7 linked regions of the Homo sapiens genome follow. The protein of the gene in region 4 purifies or fractionates together with the protein of the main gene of each other region. This does not show direct contact. Each region holds a gene or a part of one and is shown on either strand. Other genes may lie near its edges.

Evidence for each region.
Region 1: the proteins of TNFSF13B (region 4) and MON2 purify together in Homo sapiens (affinity purification with mass spectrometry; 3 studies listed by BioGRID and IntAct, with this or other methods). This does not show direct contact.
Region 2: the proteins of TNFSF13B (region 4) and PIGQ purify together in Homo sapiens (affinity purification with mass spectrometry; 3 studies listed by BioGRID and IntAct, with this or other methods). This does not show direct contact.
Region 3: the proteins of TNFSF13B (region 4) and IPO9 purify together in Homo sapiens (affinity purification with mass spectrometry; 3 studies listed by BioGRID and IntAct, with this or other methods). This does not show direct contact.
Region 5: the proteins of TNFSF13B (region 4) and TMEM131 purify together in Homo sapiens (affinity purification with mass spectrometry; 3 studies listed by BioGRID and IntAct, with this or other methods). This does not show direct contact.
Region 6: the proteins of TNFSF13B (region 4) and MAP3K5 purify together in Homo sapiens (affinity purification with mass spectrometry; 3 studies listed by BioGRID and IntAct, with this or other methods). This does not show direct contact.
Region 7: the proteins of TNFSF13B (region 4) and FHIP2A purify together in Homo sapiens (affinity purification with mass spectrometry; 4 studies listed by BioGRID and IntAct, with this or other methods). This does not show direct contact.

What each region holds. Positions count from the first base shown.
Region 1 is NC_000012.12:62,469,826-62,473,325, forward strand, and holds part of MON2 (protein MON2 homolog), read left to right. Parts: intron 1-875; exon of another isoform or gene 876-953; intron 954-3,500. UniProt on the Homo sapiens protein: Plays a role in regulating membrane trafficking of cargo proteins. Together with ATP9A and DOP1B, regulates SNX3 retromer-mediated endosomal sorting of WLS away from lysosomal degradation.
Region 2 is NC_000016.10:579,968-582,288, reverse strand, and holds part of PIGQ (phosphatidylinositol N-acetylglucosaminyltransferase subunit Q), read right to left. Parts: intron 2,107-2,321; coding exon 2,026-2,106; intron 1,432-2,025; coding exon 1,317-1,431; intron 42-1,316; coding exon 1-41. UniProt on the Homo sapiens protein: Part of the glycosylphosphatidylinositol-N-acetylglucosaminyltransferase (GPI-GnT) complex that catalyzes the transfer of N-acetylglucosamine from UDP-N-acetylglucosamine to phosphatidylinositol and participates in the first step of GPI biosynthesis.
Region 3 is NC_000001.11:201,856,657-201,860,156, forward strand, and holds part of IPO9 (importin-9), read left to right. Parts: intron 1-439; coding exon 440-538; intron 539-1,790; coding exon 1,791-1,897; intron 1,898-2,198; coding exon 2,199-2,338; intron 2,339-3,500. UniProt on the Homo sapiens protein: Nuclear transport receptor that mediates nuclear import of proteins, such as histones, proteasome and actin. Serves as receptor for nuclear localization signals (NLS) in cargo substrates.
Region 4 is NC_000013.11:108,300,718-108,304,217, reverse strand, and holds part of TNFSF13B (tumor necrosis factor ligand superfamily member 13B), read right to left. Parts: intron 1,443-3,500; coding exon of another isoform or gene 1,325-1,442; intron 966-1,324; coding exon 853-965; intron 765-852; coding exon 614-764; intron 1-613. UniProt on the Homo sapiens protein: Cytokine that binds to TNFRSF13B/TACI and TNFRSF17/BCMA. TNFSF13/APRIL binds to the same 2 receptors. Together, they form a 2 ligands -2 receptors pathway involved in the stimulation of B- and T-cell function and the regulation of humoral immunity.
Region 5 is NC_000002.12:97,985,949-97,989,448, reverse strand, and holds part of TMEM131 (transmembrane protein 131 precursor), read left to right. Parts: intron 1-3,500.
Region 6 is NC_000006.12:136,558,478-136,561,977, reverse strand, and holds part of MAP3K5 (mitogen-activated protein kinase kinase kinase 5), read left to right. Parts: intron 1-332; coding exon 333-445; intron 446-3,101; coding exon 3,102-3,178; intron 3,179-3,500. UniProt on the Homo sapiens protein: Serine/threonine kinase which acts as an essential component of the MAP kinase signal transduction pathway. Plays an important role in the cascades of cellular responses evoked by changes in the environment.
Region 7 is NC_000010.11:114,842,280-114,845,779, forward strand, and holds part of FHIP2A (FHF complex subunit HOOK interacting protein 2A), read left to right. Parts: intron 1-653; coding exon 654-947; intron 948-1,461; coding exon 1,462-1,658; intron 1,659-3,087; coding exon 3,088-3,202; intron 3,203-3,500. UniProt on the Homo sapiens protein: Required for proper functioning of the nervous system.

The sequences.
Region 1 (3,500 bases), on a different chromosome or scaffold from region 4:
TTTATTTCAAATTTTTAGTCATTTCTGTCTTTTATGGCCATAGTGCTTGACTATTATTTTATTTATTTATTTATTTATTTATTTATTTATTTATTTATTTGAGACAGGATCTCTTTCACCTAGGCTGGAAGTGCAGTGGCAGGATCTTGGCTCACTGCAGCGTTGACATCCTGGGTTCAAGTGATTCTCCCACCTCAACCCCCTGAGTAGCTGGGACTACAGGTGCATGCCACCACACGCAGCTGATTTTTGTATTTTTTTTGTAGAGACAGGGTCTCACCATGTTGCCGAGGCTTGTCTCCAACTCCTGCGATTAGGCAATCTGTCCACCTCCTACTCCCAAAGTGCTAGGATTATAGGCGTATCCCAGGCTGCCCATGTAATTCTTTTTTAAAATTAATAATAAGCTGGATTTAAAGATTTCAAATCTGTTAGAAAAACCAATAAAAGAGTATTGATAAAGAATAGTGCTTTATTTACTGATATTTACTTACTGTCTTTGGACTTCTACATGGTTTTTCCTACCTTACTGTTTTCATTTATAACTCTATCCTTTGTATATTAAATTGTTGTTGTAGTGGCTATGGCTTTATTCTGTCATTTTATAATAACCTCTTTCTCTTTTTTTCTATTTTTCTTAGTTGTTATACATAAATCTTCATGTTTTAGCAGTATAACTTTTTTTAGTACAACTGTACTAGCTAATTTGGGAATATTGTATGAAATTTTTTCCTTTGTTTTAAAAATTACTTTGAAGCCTTCCATGATCACTTCTATGTGATTAATATTCAGTGGCCTTTAGAGGAAGACAACTCTGAAGCTTTATGTTTATGTATTTCATGAATAAAAACTTTCTTATTATTTCCTATTTGCAGGTACAGATGAGGGGTATCTAACTGAGCCTGGAAGTTGGAGGAGGGGAGTCATTCCTAGCAGAGGAAATAGCACACGTTGTTAGTATTCCATGTAAAATAAATTTTATACTGAAGATGATTGGAGCCATTAGAGCTTTTTGAAAGAGAGTAATATGATCAAATTGATATTTAGTAACATTGCCTTGACAGTTGGTAGGAAGAATTAGAGGGTATTGAGACTGAAGCAAAGAGAGCAAAGTTTAAAAAATGATGATTCTCTGTTTTGAAGCAGTAGTGGACATAGACAGAAGGTTGCTTGCATTGAGTTAGACAGTAGTGAAAGAGCGTATAGATTGAAAAGGTAAAAATTACCAAGGCATGGTAATCTTTTATATAATGGAGAGAGAGAAATGTGTGATGCCTCCCAGGTTTCTGGCTTGGGAAACTAGGTGGATCACTAAGAGAAGAAATAAAAGAGGAGGAAATGTTTTGGGGGAAAATGAGTAGTCATGTGTGTATATTGTTTGAGACGGAGTCTCTGTTGCCAGGCTGGAGTACAGTGGCACAATCTCGGCTCACTGCAACCTCCGCCTCCCAGGTTCAAGTGATTTTCCCGCCTCAGCCTCCTGAGTACCTGGGATCACAGGCGCGTGCCACCACACCTGGCTAATTTTTTGTATTTTTAATAGAGACGGGGTTTCACCATGTTGGCCAGCCTAGTCTCGAACTCCTGACCTAAGGTGATCTGCCCGCCTCGGCCTCCCAAAGTACTGAGATAGCAGGCGTGAGCCACCACACCCAGCAGAGTAGTCATTATATTAAGATTTATGTGTGACATCCAAGTGGAACTGACCAGTAGGTGTTTGAAAATGATGGTTTGGCACTTAAGAGGGAAGTCTGGAATTTCAAATTTAGGAGTATCAGTTTATAAATAATATTTGAAACCATAGAATTGGATGAAATGGGCCAGGAAGAGTGTGTGTATAGAGTGAGAATATCAGGACTGGAAAAGGAACTGTGGGAAACAACATTAAAGAAAAAGGCTGCTGGGCAGACTGAGGTTAAAGATACAGGAGAGAAAGGTAAAACTCGTTAGAGGAAGGTCCTTGAGAAAACTGAAGTTTCAGTGGCATAAGTATATGAACAGGATTTCAATCTGAGAAAGGACACATTACCTTCTGACAGAGGAAGGACAAAGGAAAAACCGGGTTTGAATGTGACAAATTTGACAGAAGGGAGCGACAAGTTGTGGGCAGTTTGGTCTGTGGCCTCTGCTTTCTTGCGAAGATAAGAAACAAGCTTGTTAGTAGGAATAATTAAGTGATAAAAGAAGTAGGGGGTGGCAAGTTTGAGGAGAGCAGTGGATCACTTTGGAGAAGTGGAGGAGAAATTGTCTTGGAACACTTAAGAGTCTTAGCAGGAAGAGTGGTTGAAATAATGGTGGATTGTGAGAGCTAGGTTGGATTCCCAAAGAAGGAAAGCCAATAGTTTGGATTGACTGGATGATGATGGGAAGGTTAAAGGCTAGCAGCACCTATTTCATCAAAGAGCAGTGGGGTTGGGGAGTGAGAGAGCTAGAAGGATAGGAGTTGGGACAATGGTGGGAATATTGCATTTCAGATTGCCCAGCACTAGAGGATGATGAAGTCCAGGGAATGGGTGGTAGAAGAGTAAAGGGAAAGAAGTTCATTTGAGTTTAGGTGGTCAGAATTAGGGAATTGGATAGATTCCTTTTCTCTCTTTTTAAATGATGCAGAATCAGTAAGGGTATAAATAATTTAAAAGTGCAAGTAGTCTTCCTAGGCTATGTAGTTTAAGTTTCCTGTTACCCATTCAGGCCTAATAGAAATTGGCTGGCAGAGAAAAGCAAAGGTTTCTTGTGATAGAGTTCCTCAGTATCCAGGTGTTTTGCTTTGTTAACTGGCTTAGGGAGACCCCTAGTGAAAGAGATGCCTTCTACTTACTGTGACAGGATTTGCCATTTAATCAGATATTTAGGGACTGTGACTAATGTCATTGGCTCTCCTGGTTGGGTTAACACCTCATTTGCACGACCTTATGACATTGAAGATGAGGGCTGGATAATCTTTACGAGCTTACTTGGGATCTGTTTTGGTTTAGTATTTTATAATGTGGTTTCTTCCTCTTGACATTGTGTTCTTTCTCCCATAAGCGTAATATAATATATTCATGCTTTATATATTGAAAGCTATAAACTGAAATAAATGATTACCTGTGCTTTGGTGACAGAAAAAATAAAAGACATATTCTCTAACTTATAAGCCAAAAAGGAAGACATATTTCAAAATTTGATTTATTTTTCTTTTTTCCTTTATGTAAGCATAGCTGAACATTTTCAACCATGTATGAAGTAGAAGGTTTTGCTGTTACTGTTATAATTTAACAGAAATTTATGAGTCTCCTAAAAAAGCACAGCAGGAACACAGAAATAATTGAGAAATTGCCTTTAGTCTCATGAAGTTAACTCAAGGTTGAATAAAATGTTGCCTTCCCACTAGGCTTGGAACTTTGCATCCTTAGACTCTAATGCAACATGCCATATTAAATATTTCATTTTACAGATGAGGAAACTGGTATAGACAGGTTTAGTAATTTGCATAAGGTAGTAAAGCTGGAAAATGGTGG
Region 2 (2,321 bases), on a different chromosome or scaffold from region 4:
CCTGCCGGCCTCGTGCCGGAGGACACGGAACTTCACGCCAGCTGCAAGGATAGCAAGCGGCTGACGAGGGGACGCGTGGGGGCTGGCCCCACACATGAGCAGAGGCTGCAGGTACCTTCCTCTCTGAGGGGCACCCGGGTGCTGCTGGCCGTGGCCACCCACGAAGCTCTCCCCGCCCCCTCCGTCGCCCAACTCCTGGAGCTGGCTGCCAGGCCGGCATCAAAGCCTCCTGCAGCCAGGCACGGTGGCTCACGCCTGTAATCCCAGCATTTTGGGAGGTGGGCGGATCATGAGGTCAGGAGTTCAAGACCAGCCTGGCCAACATGGTGAAACCCCATACGTACTAAAAATACAAAAATTAGCCGGGTGTGATGGCGTGTGCCTGTAATCTCAGCTACTTGGGAGGCTGAGGCAGGAGAATCGCTTCAACCAGGGAGGCGAAGGTTGCAGTGAGCTGAGATCACACCATTGCACTCCAGCCTGGGCAAAAAGAGCAAGACTCCATCTCAAAAAAAAAAAAAAAAAAAAGCCGGGCACGGTGGCTCGTGCCTGTAATCCCAGCACTTTGGGAGGCTGAGGTGGGAGGATCACGAGGTCAGGAGTTCGAGACCAGCGTGGCCAAAATGGTGAAACCCCCATCTCTACTAAAATACAAAAAATTAGCTGGGCGTGGTGGCACACACCTGTAATCCTAGCTACTCGGGAGGCTGAGGCAGGAGAATCGCTTGAACCCAGGAGGCAGAGATTACAGTGAGCCGAGATTGCGCCATTGCACTCCAGCCTGGGCGACAAAGTGAGACTCCGTCTCAAAAAAAAAAAAGCCTCCTGCAGACTCCACTGAAAGAAGCCAGGTGTCCGGCAAGCAGGGAAGAGCCCCAGTGAGGGACGGGCGCAGGCTGTGCTGTTGAGTGGACGGGGTTTTCCGGCACAGCGGACGGGGCACTTACTGGATGGTGGCCGCCCTGCTGGCTCCTAGTGCCTCTGACTTTGCCGCGCTTGGCCCCTGGCCTGCAGTTCAGACTCCCAAGCCCAGAAAATCCCAAGGCAGAAGAACAAAGGCCTGTGGCCTCAGGTCTCCAGGGTTCTGAACCTGCGCGGCAGGTGAGTCTCTGAGTCTCTCTCCACCTCCCTGGAGGCAGCTGGTCCTGCAGACCTCTGGGACTAGGAGGCCCTGTCCTCCCTGCCCGCTTGCGCATGCATACCACGGCTTCCAGGCTGGAGGCACAGTGGCCCATGCTGTCCTTGCTTCTGCAGGGCCCACAGGTGTGGTTCCCCTCCACCTACCCAGGGCCAGCTGCCCAATACGCAGCACTTACCCGCCAGCCTGTAGGGCCGGCAGAGCCGAAGACCCAGTGAGTACAGCGGCAGGGAGTTGATGAGGTCCACGAGCAGATGGATCAGGCCCTGCACGGCGACCACCAGGAGCCGGAGCTGTGGCAGAGGAGCATTTAGGACCGGCCCGGCCAGACGCGCCTGGGGGCAGAGCAGTCCGACCCCATCCTGGGCCACGATGAAGGGGGCCCAGAGGCTGCAGGGTCCTGGGGAGAGCAGGGACCCCACCCTGAGCAGGGCACGGAGTCTGCCATTGGGCCTTGCTCTGGAGCAAAGCTGGAGGCGGAGCACCCGGCCCTCTCACCAGGTCAGAGGTGCCTCCCCACAGCCTCACATGCAGAGGGGATCGAGGCCTGGGAATCAAGCAGGTGCTGGAGGTGGTTCTGCTCACCTCCCACTGTCTGCCCCAGTGCCAGGCACCAGGGGAGGCCTCTTGCGTGACCCCACCTGCCGTGGGGTCCTTCCACCACGCACCCAGCTGCGTGCTCCAGGGCAGTGAGGGTGTCTTACTGGCCAGGATAGGGCCTCGCCCACTCCAGAGCGCAGCACTCACTGCCCAGAGGGTCCTGAAAGGCCACCCACGTGGCCTGCAGCAGGAGACAGCCCGCCCCACAGCTGACTGCTCCCAGGCAGCGCTGGCAGAAGCCACACAGAGCACTGCAGCCAGGCCCAGCCTGTGGGTGCTCAGCTCACCAGGGTGAACACCAGGTAGTACAGGGCTGTGGTAGGCAGGAGGAAGAGCAGGATGGTGAAGAGCAGAGTCCCGATGAACAGCTGTAGGGAGGGGCCAGCACACCGGGCATCAGCAGGACCCCGCGCCCAGGGACGGCCCAGCACTGTGCCCTCCCCCATCCCGGAGCTGCAGTCGGGACCTTGCGGCTTCCTGAGGGAACTCGGGATGGCCTGCTCAGAAGCAGTCCCAGTAGCAGGAGGGCTGTCCACCCACACCCCACGGACTAGGGGACTCGCAGGGAGACAGGTGGGGGCCA
Region 3 (3,500 bases), on a different chromosome or scaffold from region 4:
TTTGTTTCAGTTTTTGTTGTTGTTGTTGTTTTGTTTTGTTTGCTTTTTGGGACAGGGTCTTGCTGTTTTGCTCAGGCTGGAGTGCAGTGGTGTAGACAAAGCTCACGGCAGCCTTGACCTCCCAGGCTCAAGCCATCCTCCTGCCTCAGCCTCCCGAGTAGCTGAGACCACAGGCATATGCCACCATGCCCAGTTGACTTTTTTATTTTTTGTAGAGGTGGGGTCTCACTATGTTGCCCAGGCTGGTCTCAAACTCCTGGGCTCAAGCAGTCCTCCCACCTTGGCCTCCCAAAGTGTCAGGATTACAGTTGTGAGCCATTGCATCCAGCAAAAGGCTAGAGTTTTTTCAGGATAATAGGTTGAAATCTTCCTGTATCTGTTGATGAAAAGCTATGAATCAGATTGGCAGCATCACAAAGACATAACTTGATCTTTTCAGATTAAAGTATGGACAGCCAACCCCCAACAATTTGTAGAAGATGAAGATGATGATACATTCTCCTATACTGTTAGAATAGCAGCTCAAGACTTGTTGCTGGTAAGTTTACCTTGATACTTCAGCCACATAATTTCTATCAGTCACTTGAGCATTTCTTCTTTTTTGTAGACAACTAATCCAAGGTGAGCAGTGTTGTTGGGTGGCTTTATCTCAGACTTTATTGGGGATGCAAGAGAGTTTCTGAAATGAAATTCGAGACTCAGAAATTCTAAAATCATTGCTACTGGTTCTAACTTAAAACTAAATATTAGATAAAAGAATTGTGCAGACCATAGGGCCGGGGTGCGGGGGAGAATTGTATAGAGGATAAAGTGTTCCATGGAGTAAGGGTAGTTGAATCAAGAACATTTCAGTTTATGGCTGGGCGTGGTGACTCACACCTGTAATCCCAGCACTTGGGGAGGCCGAGGCGGGCAGATCACCTGAGGTCCAGAGTTCAAGACTAGCCTGACCAACATGGAGAAACCCCATCTCTACTAAACATACAAAATTAGCCGGGCGTGATGGCGCATGCCTGTAATCCCAGCTACTCGGGAGGCTGACGCAGGAGAATTGCTTGAACCCGGGAGGCGGAGGTTGTGGTGAGCCAAGATTACACCATTGCGCTCCAGCCTGGGCGACAAGAGTGAAACTTGGTCTCAAAAAAAAAAAAAAAAGCCATTTCAGTTTAATTCACTCTTCAACAAGAATCTATAGCACAGACAAAAGGTTGGCAAACCTAGCAAAACAAAACAGATTGCTGAAAGATTAACATCCAAATACCTGCTCATGTTTTCTTTGCCTCTTCTGACTAGAGCATAGAGTTGTCTCTAGGCTGAAATACTAAGAAGAAACTGCCACTTGCTTCTTGTTGGGTAGGAGATTTGTTCTCTGTTGATGAATCACTTCTCATTATCATTTAGTATTTCTAAGGAGCTGTGAAAGATTATATTCAGTTCCAATTAGTAGATTAGACTTATTTTTCTATCATCAGTCTCCAAGAGAGCAAATATTTGGTCCATTGTCATCCAAAGCTAGATCTATTATTGCTCACTTATGCTCTGCTGAATATAGCCAAAGGAGCCAACTGGTTAGCCTTACAATGCCTAGGCACTACCGAAATACAGATACTACTTTAATTTCATTAGAGACCCTGACCTACTGGTATAACATTTTTAATACAATTAGGGGTTTGCACATGTATGTGAAAGAGCTTGAACCAATCACTTCTAACAGTCATGACTGAAGCGGTTTACAATTAAAATGCATTTAATGGGCACAAACAGATTTATTAGCTCTTCTCTCTCTATAGGCTGTGGCCACAGATTTCCAGAATGAAAGTGCAGCAGCCCTGGCTGCTGCAGCCACTCGACATTTACAAGAAGCTGAGCAAACCAAAAACAGTGGCACTGAGCACTGGTAAGAGTGAGCCGCTAATTGGTTAAGATGCTTTTGTTTACCCCTTCTTAAAAAGTCTTGAAAGGATGGATTTATTTTTATCTTAATTTGAAAATCTGGTTTTAATTTAATAACAGATTTTAATCTCTTATTATTAAAATTTCACTCTTTTCAGCTATAGGTTAGAATGGAAGGGCTTAAGGTAAATGACTCTTTTGGAAGAGATTGTGCTGGAGTGCCCTTTTCTGAATCTTGTTTCCTCAAATATTTATCTCTTTTGGCAGTTTAGTATGTTTTACTAGGCTGTAGTATCCTTTCACAGGTGGAAGATCCATGAGGCATGCATGCTTGCCCTAGGCTCAGTGAAGGCCATCATCACTGACAGTGTGAAAAATGGCAGGATTCATTTTGACATGCATGGGTTCCTGACCAATGTCATCCTTGCAGACCTCAACCTCTCAGGTATGTTTCAGCACGTGCCAGGATTCTAGAAACTCTTTAAACCTGTTGTGGGGTTGGGGGAGGGATCAGCATTAGGAGATATACCTGATGTAAGTGACAAGTTAATGGGTGCAGCACACCAACATGGCACATGTATACATATGTAACCTGCACATTGTGTACATGTACCCTAGAACTCAAAGTATAATATATATATATATATATATATATATAAAGGAAACTCTTTAAACCTGTCATTAACTTGGTTATATTGTTCACTTAGACTGGTAGGCCAGATATTCTTGTGTCCTTTGAGTGAAAATTGTTTGCACCCTACAGCTTGAACTCATCCGAACCTCTAAAACAGCCCAGAGGCCGATTCAAGCTTCACCTAATGACAATCTAATATTGCCTAGTTCATAATTCTTCCGTGATGTTTATGTTTCTTCCCAAATTGGCGTTCCCATTCATGGTTGTTTTTGGCATTTGAATGGAATCCAAATCTGGTTGCTGTACCTTGAGAATTATCGAGTACTGCTCCCATTGTTAAGTCCAGAATGCCCTCAGGCATTCTGTATCAGGCACATTCTTCCTGTTTGTTTCCTGTCATTTTTCTCAAACTTTATTTTTGGCCAATATCCAAATAATTAAAATGTTCCATTCTCATACCCATGTTAGCCATCTGTCTTAAAAAGAAAAAAGTAGGCCAGGCGCGATGGCTCATGCCTCTAATCCCAGCACTTTGGGAGGCTAAGGCAGGTGACTCACCTGAGGTCAGGAGTTCAAGACCAGCCTGGCCAACTTGGCGAAACCCCATCTCTACTAAAAATATAAAAATTAGCTGGGTGTGGTAGCAGGAGCCTGTAGTCCCAGCTACTCAAGAGGCTGAGGCAGGAGAATCACTTGAACCAGGAGGCAGAGGTTGCAGAGAACTGAGATCACACCACTGTATTCCACCTTGGGTGACAGAGCGAGACTTGGTTTAAAAAAAAAAAAAAGGTAGCCCTTTACTATTAGACCGATTTCTTCCGCAATACAGAGCAGTAGCTGAGAATCATTGTTGTCTATGTGGCATTTTCTGCTACTTGCTTCTGCCATGCCATGCCTTTTCTCATCCTTGGAGCCAGATCACCATCCGAAAACACTGCCTTTGCTTTCTCTCTCAGTACTTAAATCATGGAAC
Region 4 (3,500 bases):
TCCCTTACCCTCAAGCCTGGCCAGGGGCATTTCTTCCACAGCATGCAAGAAGAGTTTTGGTTGCTCCCGGTGCGGAGCCAGACTGGCTGGTTTAAACCAAGTCTAAAAATTAGCTGTGTAACCTGGGACAAGTTATGTTACTTCTCTGTGCCTAGATCCTAACTCCCTTAAATGCGAAGATTAAATAAGCAAGCATATATAACATGCAGAAAAGAGTGCCTGGCAAGTGGTAATCACTCTATCCTTGTCAGATATTATTATTGTTGTTATTAAGTGTTGAAGAAAATACATTAGAATTTTTTCTCAATGTAGAAGTTACTATGTAGAAGTACTATGTACCATGTATTATGTACAAGGTAGAAGTTGCTATGAAATTACTACCCTTTCTAAATGTATATAAAAATGGTAAAACTATTAGTAATAATTCCATCTTTCTCAATTAAAACAGACTAGCTTATTATTCAAGATTTAAAAAACACAATATATTGAGGAATGTCTTTCTGTCTATTTGTATTTTAGGGCACCATCCTTTCATTTTTGCATTTTGCAGCTCAGATTTTTCGTCAAAGTCTCTTCATTTCACAATTAGCAGGGTGTGAGAACTAATATTTACCAGCTGAATAGCAGGAATTATTGGGTAGTGTTTCAGGCATATTTTGAATACATCGAAACAAAGTCACCAGACTCAATTCATCCCCAAAGACATGGACCTTCTTCCTCTGAATTAGATGTCCCATGGCGTAGGTCTTATCAGTATATAAAACCTAAGAAACAAACCAAAAAACTGTGTCAGAAATGAACACAAAATGGGAGGCTTTGAACAGTAAAACCAGAATTAGGGTTTCAACCTACCTGACCATATATAAAAAAGTAACCAGTTTCTTTGACCAATATTTTATTCTCTTTTTCTTCTAGGGCACTTCCCCTTTTAAAGCTGAGAAGCCATGGAACAAATGTGTAAGATCCTGCAATGAAGAGAATCATTTATAAGGAAAGAAACCAAGAAAAGCAGTTTTCACCTCCATTTAGTTGTTAAGCTACCTCTGAAACTTAGAAGATAATTCCATCCTAAAAAAAAAAGAAAGAAAGAAAGAAAAAAAAGGAAAAAGGAATACAAGTCACATTACTGCACTGGATTCTTTGCCATCACTTATATGTTAACCTGGGTTAATATATCAGATACAAGAACCTGAGAGCTAACCCTTTATATGAATGTCTGGGTTTTCCCTTTATTGGTCTATATTTCGGCTATTTCATAATAAAGGCTGATCTGGATAAGAGAGTTTGAAGCAAAGAGTGGACAAAATTTCTCTGAATAACACACTAGTAGAGATTTTCCTTTGATTCCCAGAGAGGAAAGAGTATCTGAAGAGTTTGGCAAAATGTTTCCAGACGAAGAAATCTCTCCATTCCTTGGCCCAAATGTGGCAACAGAAGGGAGCCTACGGAAGAAAGAAGAAAGTGACTAAGACACAACCTTTACTAAGAACGGTCAAGGAACTTTGTAACAACCATCTATGATATTTGAGTTTCAATGGCTTCTGTTCAGTTCAGTGATAATTCTCCTCCATTACCCATCAAAAGTCACTTGGGTAGTGACAAGGAGACCACTGTGCTCAAGGGTGAGATGAAAGGGACAGAGAGAAGACAGTAGCCATCAGTGAGTAGGCACATGGGGGGACTACATTGCTGAGCCAGAATCTGTAGGTGCGTTCAGACATCAAAACCCATTAAGAGAGCAGAGACATTCCTTTCCTGTGAATTCATACTTTACATTCCCTGGATTTCTCATGGGTGTGTTGAATAAAGGGTGAGCCCTAAGGCTGGAGATTGGGAAATTTGGGGAGTATAAATTAAATGATGTAAAATGAATAAAAAGAAGATTGAGGGACTGTAATATAAGGATAAAATAGTAAAATAGAGCTATAGAAGTTAGTCTAAAATCATACTTTAAATGTCCCTATATAATTGGTAATGGTGAACCATACCTGTCTCCAAATTTCATCCTGATCATAGCAAAAATGAAAACAAAATTGATAATAAAATTCAGAATCCACAACAGACAATAGGCTAGAAGCCCAAGAAGATAACAATATTTCTAGAATTGAGATTAAAGAATATTTTTTCCTGTGGGTTTTCATGAGGGGCACAGGATGATGTGGTAGCTAACAGTGTGTTCACATTCTGTAAATACAACTGCCAAGTGTACATGCCTTCTTCACATAGTGTTTCCAAGGCAAACCAAACATATTTAAACTTTTTCCAAATAAAATTCTTTTTTGATCTTATGTTTTAATTGACAGATAAAATTGTACATATTTGTCATGTACAACATGATGTCTTGAAATATATAGGCATTGTGCAATGACTGAGTCAAGTAAATTAAAATATATGTTACCTCGTACAGTTGTCATTTTTGTGGTGAGAACACAATATCTACTCATTTAGCATTTTTCAAAAATACATTTTCATTAACTGTAGTCACCATGTTGTACACGAGATCTCTTGAACGTATTCCTCCAGTCTAACTGAAATTTCGTAATCTTTGACCAACGTCTTTTCACCTCCACCCCCGCCACCCCAGCCACTGGTCAACACCATTCTACTCTCTACTTCTTTGAATTTGACTTTTTTTAGATTCCACATATATGTCAGATCATGTAGTATTTGTCTTTCTGTGCTTATTTCACTTGTTATAATGTCCCCCAAGTTCATCCATGTTACTGCAAACAACAGGGTTTCCTTATTTTTATGCTGAATAGTATTCCACTGTGTATATATTGCACATTTTCCTCATCCATTCATCTGCAGATGGACACTTAGGTTGATTTAATATCTTGGCTATTGTGAATAATTCTGCAATAAACATTGAAGTACAGTTATCTCTTCTATGGTCACACCACTCCGAATGCACCCTATCTTGTCTGACCTCAGGAGCTAAGCAGAGTTGGGCATGGTTAGTACCTGGATGAGAGATATCTCTTTGACACACTGATTTCATTTTCTTTGGATATATACTTGGTAGTGGGATTGCTGGATCATATGGTATTTTATTTTTAATTTTTAAAGAAACTTGTGTACTATTTTTCATAATGGCTACACTAATTTATATTCCCATTCCAAATAAGATTATGGAGGGAAGAATATAAAATAAGAACCACATATTTCTGATTGTTTCTAAGGAGTAAGAATCCTAGGTGATAACCAAGCAAATTACATTGTAAATTCAAGTTGAAATAAATAACATTTCCCTAGTCAGATCTTTGAGTTCCTATTACCATAGACAGAGGGAGGAAAGATGTCAGGGAGAGTGCAGAGGAAGGATGGAGGATCTATGGGTGGATCAAGAAACTTCCCAGGTCTTCTTCAGCACATGTTCTTGTCGGCCTGTGCTTCTTGCTCACTCCCAGGAGCCACCTCTGTCACTGTCTCTCACCAAGGGTGAATGTGCCTTGATATGGGCAGGTCTAATTGGCTTTTCCCAAAGAAGGGAATATTTT
Region 5 (3,500 bases), on a different chromosome or scaffold from region 4:
GCTCCTGGTAACCACCATTCTACTTTCTGTGTTTATGAATTTGACTACTTTAGATACTTCATATAAGTAGAATAATGCAGGATTTGTGACCTGCTTATTTTACTTAGCATAATATCTGTAAGGTTAATCCATGTTGTAGGATGTGACAGTTCCTTCCTTTTTTTTTTTTTTGTTTTGTTTTTTGAAATGATGTTTTGAGAATTTATTTACAACCATTGAACACGGATGATTTTGTAAAACTGACAATTACAGGCTCCTTAAACTCACAACATACATATATTTCAATATTTAAATAGCCTGTTTTCTTCAAAAGTAATTTTCTGCTTTTTCATAAAAATATAAAAAAGACAACATTTATAGTTCCTTCCTTTTTAAGGTTGAATTATATTCCATTGTATGGATATACCACATTTTGTTTATCCATTCATCCATCCGTGGACACTAGGCTTGCTCCTACCTCTTGGCTCTTGTGACTAATGCTGTGAAGTTGAGTATGCAAATATCTCTTCAAGACCCTGGTTTCAACTATTTTGCATATCTACCCAGAAGAGAGATTTCTGGATCATGTGATAGTTCTATATTTAATTCCTTAAGCAACCACCACATTTCCATAGTGGTTGCATAATCTCAGAATCCCGTGAATAATGCACAAGGATTCCAATTTCTCCATGCCCTTGCCAACAGTTGTTTTTGTTTTGTTTTGTTTTGATAGTGGTGTGAGGTGCTATCTCATTGTGGTATTGATTTGCATTTTTCTAATGATTAATGATATTGAGCGTCTTTTCATATCCTTCTTGGGCATTTGTATATCTCCTTTGGAGAAATGTCTATTCACGTCCTTTGCCCACGTTATATTCAGGTTTTGTTGTTGTTGTTGAGTTATAGGAGTTCCTTATATATTCTGGATATTACCCCTTATCAGATGATTTGCAACTATGTTCTCCCATTTGGCAGGTTGCCTTTTCACTCTGTTGATCATATTCTTTGAACAAAAGTTTTTGTTTGATATAGTTACTTTTGCTTTTGGTGTCATATCCAAGATATCATTGCCAAATCCAATGTCATGAACTTTTTCCCTATGCTTTCTCCTAGGCATTTTATAGTTTTGGGTCTTATGTTTCGGTCTTTAACCCATTTTGAGTTAACTTTTATTTATGGTGTAAGATAAAGGGTATAACTCTATTCTTTTGCATGTGGATATCCAGTTTCTCCAGTTCCATTTGTTGAAGAGGCTGTCCTTTCTTCACTGAGTAGTCTTTGTGTCCTTGTATGAAAATTAATTGGCTATATATGCAAGGGTTTATTTCTGGACACTTTATTCTGTTTAACTGCTCTGTGTGTCTGTCTTTATGCCAGTACCAGACTATTTTGAATACTATAGCTTTGTAATATGTTTTGAAATAAGGAAATGTGAGACCTCTAACTGTCTTCTTCCTTTTCAAGATTATTTTGGCTATTTGGGGTCCCTTGAGATTCTGTATGAATTTTAGGATGCACTTTTCTACTTGCCTTGGGATTTTGGGATTTTGATAGTGATTGTGTTGAACCTATAGATCACATTGGGTAGTATTGATATCTTAACAGTATTTTAACCCATAAACTTGGGATGTCTTTCCATTTATTTGTGTCTAATTTTTTCAGCAGTGTTTTGTAGTTTTCAGTGTACAAATCTTTCACTTCCTTGGTTAGGTTTATTCCTAAGTATTTTATTCTTTTTGATGTCATTGTAAATAAAACATGCATTTTTGAACTAATGATTTTAATCAGTGTATCATTAATAGTTGTAAATACATAGTTTTTAGTAAACACTCCATATTTGAAACAAGAAAAAATGCTGCGTACTTAAGGTATTTCGTTAATTACCTGCCTATAAAATGAAAGACATTTAAGCCCTCGTTAGTTCTAACAGTTTGTGACTTTTTTTTGTTTTTGTTTTTTTGTTTTTTTGAGACAGAGACTCACTCTGTTGCCAGGCTGGAGTACAGTGGTGCGATCTCAGCTTACTGCAGCCTCTGTCTCCCGGGTTCAAGCGATTCTCCTGCCTCAGCCTCCTGAGTAGCTGGGACTACAGGTGTGTGCCACCACGCTCAGCTAATTTTTGTATTTTTAGTAGATGAGGTTTCACGGCCAGGATGGTCTCGATCTCTTGACCTCATGATCCACCTGACTTGGCCTCCCAAAGTGCTGGGATTACAGGCATGAGCCACTGTGCCTGGCCAATTTGTGACTATTTTTTAAATCAGTTATAATGATTGCAAAGTGATATGGCAGTTTGGTTCTTGAAAGCTGATTTTTTCTGTATAGTTCTAGTATTACATTTGGATCAAAGGATGTGCTAGTTAAAAACTGTCTTGGCAGTGAAGTTTGAGAAATAGCATAGCCAACTTTATGGATTCAGGTTAATTAGTGGTTTGTATTCATGGTATGGCAAGGGCCCTACATGGATTTTCTTTTTAGAGCATGATTAAACTGGGAGCAGAAGATTTTCTAGGCAATTATTCATGGTACAAAGGTGCTCTGTGAAACCTAACTGTATTTATAAAGATCTTTGAGATAGTTTATGTTTGTCATTCCAAAAGTTATTAGGTAGAGCAGTGTACAAGAGAGGGTAGTGTGCTTTCAAACCTTTGGGCGAAATTGGACCACCTTTAGAAATGCTTCTATGGATTGGTGACATGGGCTCATCTGAAGTATTGCTTCTTGATTAGCAAATGGGAAATGAAGTAGTGGTCAGCACTACCAAGAGGTAATGTCTCTTTCAGAATGGGTGCAGCAGTGGTTATGTTTCAGATATAGGGGAGTTCTTAGGTATTTAGGGGTCCACCTCATTATTCTGGGTGGCTTCTGTTGAGTTATGGCTGGGCATGAAAATAGGTTACTGAGAATTGTTTTGAAGAGAGATGTAGGAAGGAAAAAACAGGCAAGGAATTAGGTCCAGTTTTATTGGAATCCTAGAAATTCTTGTTTAAATTGATTGTAAGAATAAAACAGATTATAAAATGCAGATTAATAAATGGTGAAAAACTGTAACCAGTCAAGAACTAACATGAGTCATCCATGTTTTGGTCTCTGTTCCTTCCTCATCTCTCTTCCCTCTCCTCACTCTTTTCCTGCCCCTATTCCCCATTTAAAAAAATAGATACTGCCAATAGTTTTCTTCAAAGGCAATCAATTCACATCTCAACCATACTGTATGCATGTGCTTACTTCCCCACACTGGCTGTTACTCTTTTCTTACCAGTCTACCAATAAAGTTGTCACGTTGTTTTAATTTATTTTAAAACAATTACTACTAAGACTGAATACTTTTATACATTTGCGACCATTTGTATTTGTGTTTGATCAGTCTTTTGTCAGTTTTCCCATTGATGTTTGAATTTTTCTTTTTGACTTAGTCTTTTGACTTTAAGGATTTAATATTTTTCTGAGTTTCTATTTGCATTTGAATTTTTTATTTTCTATTATTTTTATACCTGTCAGGCAACTCTCTTTTTTTTTTT
Region 6 (3,500 bases), on a different chromosome or scaffold from region 4:
TCTCTGCTAATTGTATTCATCTTTATTGCATGAAAAACACAAAGTCTAATTTTGGTGCACAGAGTTTATTCTAAGAAACCATAAAATTGATATGAAAGTGTAACGTAGGAGTGTCATTTCATTATTGCTTTTGCTCCTTATTTACTAGTAAATTCACTTCTCTGAGTTTTATTCATATTATCATCTATACTGCCAATCTCAATTGTTTCTATGAACTGTTCTCTGATAGAGCAAAATCTTTTAAAGTATCAATAAATGTCTGTTGATTGTGAGGGTCTCAGATGACCTCTGTTAGGTGAAATTAAGAATATCTTCCCAAAATTCTGTTCTAGAAATTCCTGAATTGCCTGTATTTCATCTAAATTCTTCTGGCACAAATACTGAAGATTCTGAACTTACCGACTGGCTGAGAGTGAATGGAGCTGATGAAGACACTATAAGCCGGGTAAAGAAAACTGTCTGTGGGACAAGTATTCTTTCACTTCGTTTCATAATGTTGGGTGCCTGCTATGTGACAGGCACAGGGGATACACTGGTGAGCAAATCAGACCCAGCCCTGCCCTCCTGAGGCTTACAGACCAGGGTAGGCACGTGATAATCAGCTAACTCCACAGATACAAATGTGATTCTACACTGGTAAATTCTATGAAGAAAAAGGTATCAGGTGTTTATTAGATAGGGCGAGAGAGGTTGGGGAAGGTTGTTGGAGAAGGGAATGAAAGAGCTGAAGGCTAACAGAATGTGAGGGTATAAATAGGCCAATTGTATGTATGTTCAGGAGGGGTGTGGGAGGGAGACCAGGGAAGAACCTTGTGCAGTGGGGCTGCAGTGTGTACAATCCAACGAGGCAGGCAAAAGCTCTGTGGTCCTGAGCCCCTTAGGAATTTTATGTATTTGAAATGAAAACCAGAAAGAGTGGGAAAAAAATAAAGACAGGACTAAAAGAAAAAATTTCTTGTTTCTAATTCTTTGTATGTTAATTTTTATTTTATTTTATTTTATTTTATTTTATTTTATTTTATTTTATATTTTTTTGGAGACAAGGTCTCGCTCTGTTACCCTGGCTGGAGGGCAGTGATCATAGCTCCCTGCAGCCTTGACCTGCTGGGCTCAAGTGATCCTCCCACCTTAGCCTCCTGAATAGTTGGGACTACAGACATGAACCATCATACCCAGCTAATTAAAAAAAAAATTTAGAGATAGGGTCTCGCTATGTTGCCCAGGCTGGTCTTAAACTCCTGGCCCCAAGCGATTCTCTCACCTCAGCCTCTCAGAGTACTGGGGCTACAGGCATGAACCACCACGCCAGGCCTGTTTGTTAAATTTTTAATTCTTTTTCAACATTATTAGATTCCACTGGGCAGCAGCTATTTTATTGCTACTTAATAAAATCAATCTGGTCGACTTATTTCAGAAATATTTTCTATACAAACCATATTTTACCTGTAATAATCTAATTCCTCTCTGCTCTGTATAGACTTTTTTTGATTTTGTTTTTTGAGACACAATCTCACTCTGTCGCCCAGGCTGCAATGCTGTGGTGCGATCTCAGCTCACTGCAATCTTTGCCTGCCAGGCTCGAGAGATTCCCTGCCTCAGCCTCTCAAGTAGCTGGGATTACAGGCATATGCCACTAAGCCTGGCTAATTTTTGTACTTTTAGTAGAAACAGGGTTTCACCATATTGGCCAGGGTGGTCTCGAACCCTGGCCTCAAGTGATCTGCCCACCTCAGCCTCCCAAAGTGCTGAGATTACAAGTGTGAGCCACTGCGCCCAGCCCCTATAGACTTTTGTAATGAGCGTGAATAGCATTTGTTTATGTTCATTATATGAACACACAGGCATACATTAAAACATTGTAATATTTGATAGAAAGACCCTCTTAATACAATATTGTTTTGTTTTATATTTAAATTTTAAAAATAAATAAGAATAAAGATATCTCTTCTTTTGACTTGATAATTTATTAACTAAGTAGAATTTCGGGCCGCCTTAGAAATCTACATTTAACAAGTTACAGCTGAATAAATTTAAACAACTCCAGAATATACATTCCTCTAACTTAGGCTCAAATCCTAATTAAGGAATAGTAATTGATAATCTACTAAATAATCACCCTTTTTATTTGGTTTAAAAGTAAAAGCTTGAGGCCAGGTGCAGTGGCTCCTGCCTGTAATCCCAATACTTTGGGAAGCATAGGCAGATTGCTTGAGGCCACGTGTTGGAGATTAGGCTGGTCAATATAGTGAGACTGTCTCTATATATAAAAAAATAAATAAAATTTAAAAATATAAAGGTGCAGTTTAAATTAAGACTCTGCTTTTATGGTGAATTACAGTCAAGTGCCTTTGCTTAACCATGAAAAAATAAGTTCAGAAATTAAGCATAGGCAGTACCTTTCCAGGAACACTTTTTATCCACTTGAGGAAAAACAAAGCTATGTAGCATTGAACTTCTAAATACAAGATTTGCTTTTGAACAGCAGAGTGATTACAAGTGAGTCTCATCTGTTCATTAGAAGACCATTCAGAAGTTCTGTGTCACTTGTAATCTTTTTGCATTTGGAAGTTAATATGGATGCATTTCTTGTTTTTGTTTTTGTTTTTGTTTTTGTTTTTGTTTTTTTGAGACGGAGTCTCACTCTGTCGCCCAGGCTGGAGTGCAGTGGGTCAATCTCAGCTCACTGCAACCTCTGCCTCCCGGGTTCAAGCGATTCTCCTGCCTCAGCCTCCCAAGTAGCTGGGATTACAGGCATACGCCACCACGCCCAGCTAATTTTTTGTATTTTTAGTAGAGATGGGGTTTCACCACTTTGGCCAGGCTGGTCTCGAACTCCTGACCTCAGATGATCCGCCTGCCTCAGCCTCCTAAAGTGCTAGGGTTACAGGCGTGAGCCACTGCGCCCGGCCTGGATGCATTTCTTTGTATTTATTGAGTAACAGGGAGGCCTTTCCCCTAATAATCCTGGAAGATTGTGTTTTTAGTAGATTTCATTTTTAGATTCATTTTTAATTATAGTCAAGGTTTACATTATGAATAGAGTTTGTGCTTTATTAAAGTTATATAAAACATCTTTTGTGCATATTCTACTTTCTCTACAGTTTTTGGCTGAAGATTATACACTATTGGATGTTCTCTACTATGTTACACGTGATGACTTAAAATGCTTGAGACTAAGGTACCACTTTTCTTTCTGTTGTCACTATGGAAAGAGCACCAGGCAAATATCAAAAAGTCTGAGTATCTTCCCAGGCTGGGTCTCTAATTAGCTTTGTAGTTCTGGACAGAGCTCTCTAGCTCTTAGCTGCTCTGAGTAAACTGAGTTAGTTGGACAATGATATTTTTGAGGGCTCTAATAACCAATATTTCTATATTAGTAAGTGAAAATCAACTGGAAGAATTTTTTTGAATAAGATGCAGACTAAGTCCATGCAGATATTCTGAAGCTGCCTTAAACAAATGCTTTAATTGAGTTCATGATGGTGTTATACTCAATAAAT
Region 7 (3,500 bases), on a different chromosome or scaffold from region 4:
GTCTCGAATTCCTGGGCTCAAGTGATCCTCCTGCCCCGGCCTCCCAAAGTGCTGGTATTACAGGCATGGGTCACTGTGCCCAGCTTCTTGCGTTCTTATAGAGTAGAGGTTTAAGGAAAAACTTAGAAAAGATGCTTATATATTTGAGAGAATTTGGGGGCTTTTGTGGAAACCTTCAGTCTAATGCTGGTAACTTTTGAACTTTAAAATATTTTTATTTGTAAGTTTGTACTTCCTTCCCTGCAAACCACCCCCCCCACCCTATGATCTTATAAGAATTAACATTGAGACTATGTAGTTACAGTAGTCCAGTGATGAGAAAAAAGTTAACTGCAATTGAAACCTCCTGAAACTTTTTTCCTCACTAACATTAGTTGTTTTAAGCAGTAGTCAAATTATCAGTAATACTGTTCATTGCTTATGGTCAGTGTAAAACATTTTGTAGTTAGTATGAGGAGTGTGATAAACTCCTATGCAATGGTAAAATCATTCTAAAACACAGTTTGTTAAAAGTCAGAATATTTTCATGTGACATAACATCTATTGCTACTTTGGCTAGGCATGTGGAATGTTATAGAAAAATCCATTAAAATATTATTTTTGGCTTAAAAAGTTATTGATGTGAATTTTATAAAACATATATTCCTTTTCAGAATAAGATGAAATCATTGGCTTCCAAAGGAGTACCAAATGTAATTTCAGAAGATACATTAAAAGGTCAGGATTCCTTGTCAACAGATACAGGACAGTCCCGTCAACCAGAGGAACTATCTGGTGCTACTGGAATGGAGCAAACAGAATTGGAAGATGAGCCTCCTCATCAGATGGATCACCTGTCCACAAGCTTGGATAACCTCAGTGTCACCTCACTGCCAGAGGCCTCGGTTGTTTGTCCAAATCAGGATTACAATTTAGTGAATTCTTTGTTAAATCTTACTAGAAGTCCTGTGAGTTATGGTCCTTACTTTTTCCCCCCTAACATTATTTCAATAATGTGTATTTATTTATTTTTTTAATTTTAATTTTTAATTTATTTTTTTTTTTGAGATGGAGTCTTGCTGTGTTGTCCAGGCTGGAGTACAGTGGTGCGATCTTGGCTCACTGCAACCTCCGCCTCTGGGTTCAAGCGATTCTCCTGCCTCAGCCTCCCTAGTAGCTGGGATTACAGGTGCACGCCACCACGCCAGCTAATTTTTGTATTTTTAGTAGAGATGGGGTTTCACCATGTTGACCAGGCTGGTCTCAAACTCCTGACCTCAGCTGATCCACCCGCCTTGGCCTCCCAAAATGCTGGGATTACAGGTGTGAAGCTCCACAGTTGGCCAATAATATGCATTTAAAATAGACAAAAATCTATTTTTCTTTTAGTGTGAAACATTAAATCCTTTTATGTTGAATGTTTTCAAACAACCTGATGTATATACAATTCAAGAATTGAAGGGGGATTTTTTTTTCCTTTAGGATGGCAGAATAGCTGTGAAGGCATGTGAAGGCTTGATGCTGTTAGTAAGTTTGCCAGAGCCTGCGGCTGCAAAGTGCCTTACACAGAGCACTTGCTTGTGTGAACTACTGACAGACAGACTTGCCTCCCTGTACAAGGCCCTACCTCAGTCAGTGGATCCGTTAGATATTGAAACCGTGGAAGCAATTAACTGGGGGTAAGCACCGTTACTTGTATTTTCCCATAAAGGTGACTTCTTAACACCTACATTTTAAAATCCATTTCTATTTTGCAATGGTAGAAGTCTTTGAAAAATTGAACACCACTAGTGATCATTAAATGGGAATATTTTCTTGAAGCTTGTATTAATCAGTGGTAATGAATTGGTGTGGGAACAATCCAGCTGTTACATAGTTAAGATATTTTTATTTTGTCCATTTTACTGATCAATTTTTAAGGGCTTACATTAAAATCAATAATTTTAACTGATTATTAAAAACAAAAAACCCTCAAAGAAGGAATCTCCTTTTAAAATAATTTCCACAGCCTCTAGAGCAGTCTAATCTGTCTCCTGGCCTGTTTGTACAGAATCTCTTCTACCTCATTCTTTCACCTCTTCTTCCTACCTTTTAGACTCCCCAACTTGATTATCATAGGGAAATATGATTATTGCAGAACGTTTATAAATTATTAAAAAGTATAAAGCAGCATAAACAAGTTGCCCATAGTCCCACCACCTGTAAGCAGCCTAAGGTTTTGACATAATCACCTTTTATTGTATTTCTCTGTATTTTTAACGTGTCTTTCTTTTTTCCACTCTATTTTCTGTCAACATCTATAGGGCAGACCCACTTGTTAACATTATGACTGTATTGCATTTTAGGGCAGGAAGAGAAGTAGTCCACTCGCTATTTCTGTTTGTAGATCCCCATTTACCGTTCTTTTCTTCCATCCCAGCAGCTGAGAACCTCCATCTTTTCGTTGATGTTACTTGGTAACATTTAGGGCAGGAGTATGAGGAGCTATCCCAGTGTTTTTTCTCCTGCAGCTCCACTGTTTTTTTGTTTGTTTGTTTTTTCTTTGAGACGGAGTCTTGCTCCGTCGCCCAGGCTGGAGTGCAGTGAAGCAATCTTGGCTTACCGCAACCTCCGTCTCCCAGGTTCAAGTGATTCCCGTGCCTCAGCTTCCCAAGTAGCTGGGATTACAGGCATGAGCCACCATGCCCAGCTAATTTTTTTTTTTTTTTTTGTATTTTTAGTAGAGAGAGAGAGAGAGTTTCATCATATTGGCCAGGCTGGTCTCGAACTCCTGACCTCAAGTGATCCACCCACCCACGCACGTTGGCCTCCCAAAGTGCTGGTATTACAGGCATGAGCCACCACACCTGGCCTCCTGCAGTTCCATTCTGCTTTAACCTCTCTTCTCCTACTTAATACGTGAAAATTATTTACAGCTCTTATTTAAAAGATTTTCTCTTATCTTTGGTTTCTTTTACAGAATCCTCTTCTCACTGTCCTCCAGCATTTCCTGTGTGAATGTACCATACTATCTGAGTGTGTTCATGTGCCTTCATTTTTCCATACATTCTGAATAGGGTCCATGCTTTTGGATAACTTTGGACTTAGCAATTCTTCCTTGTCTTACAGCTTGGACTCATATAGTCATAAAGAAGATGCTTCAGCATTTCCAGGAAAACGAGCCTTAATTTCATTTCTTTCCTGGTTTGATTATTGTGATCAGCTCATTAAGGAAGCCCAAAAGGTTTGTAATTTTTTATTGTTTTTTGATCATTTTAAGATATAAATATCTATTAAGTGAAATTGGAATCCCTAATTTATATCCCAAATACATTTTAATTGTCTTAGAATACCATGGTTAGTAAAATAAGTAAACAAAAAAGTGTATATGTGTTTGTATGTGTGTATTACAATTCCAGAATAAATCAAAGTTCAAGTTCTGCCCTTTTATATTTCCTTAAATATTATGGTACAGTACTTTACAAAGTAACACTGATTTCCCTTCAGTCCTGCTCTTTGGTGAGATGTTAATACTATATGGA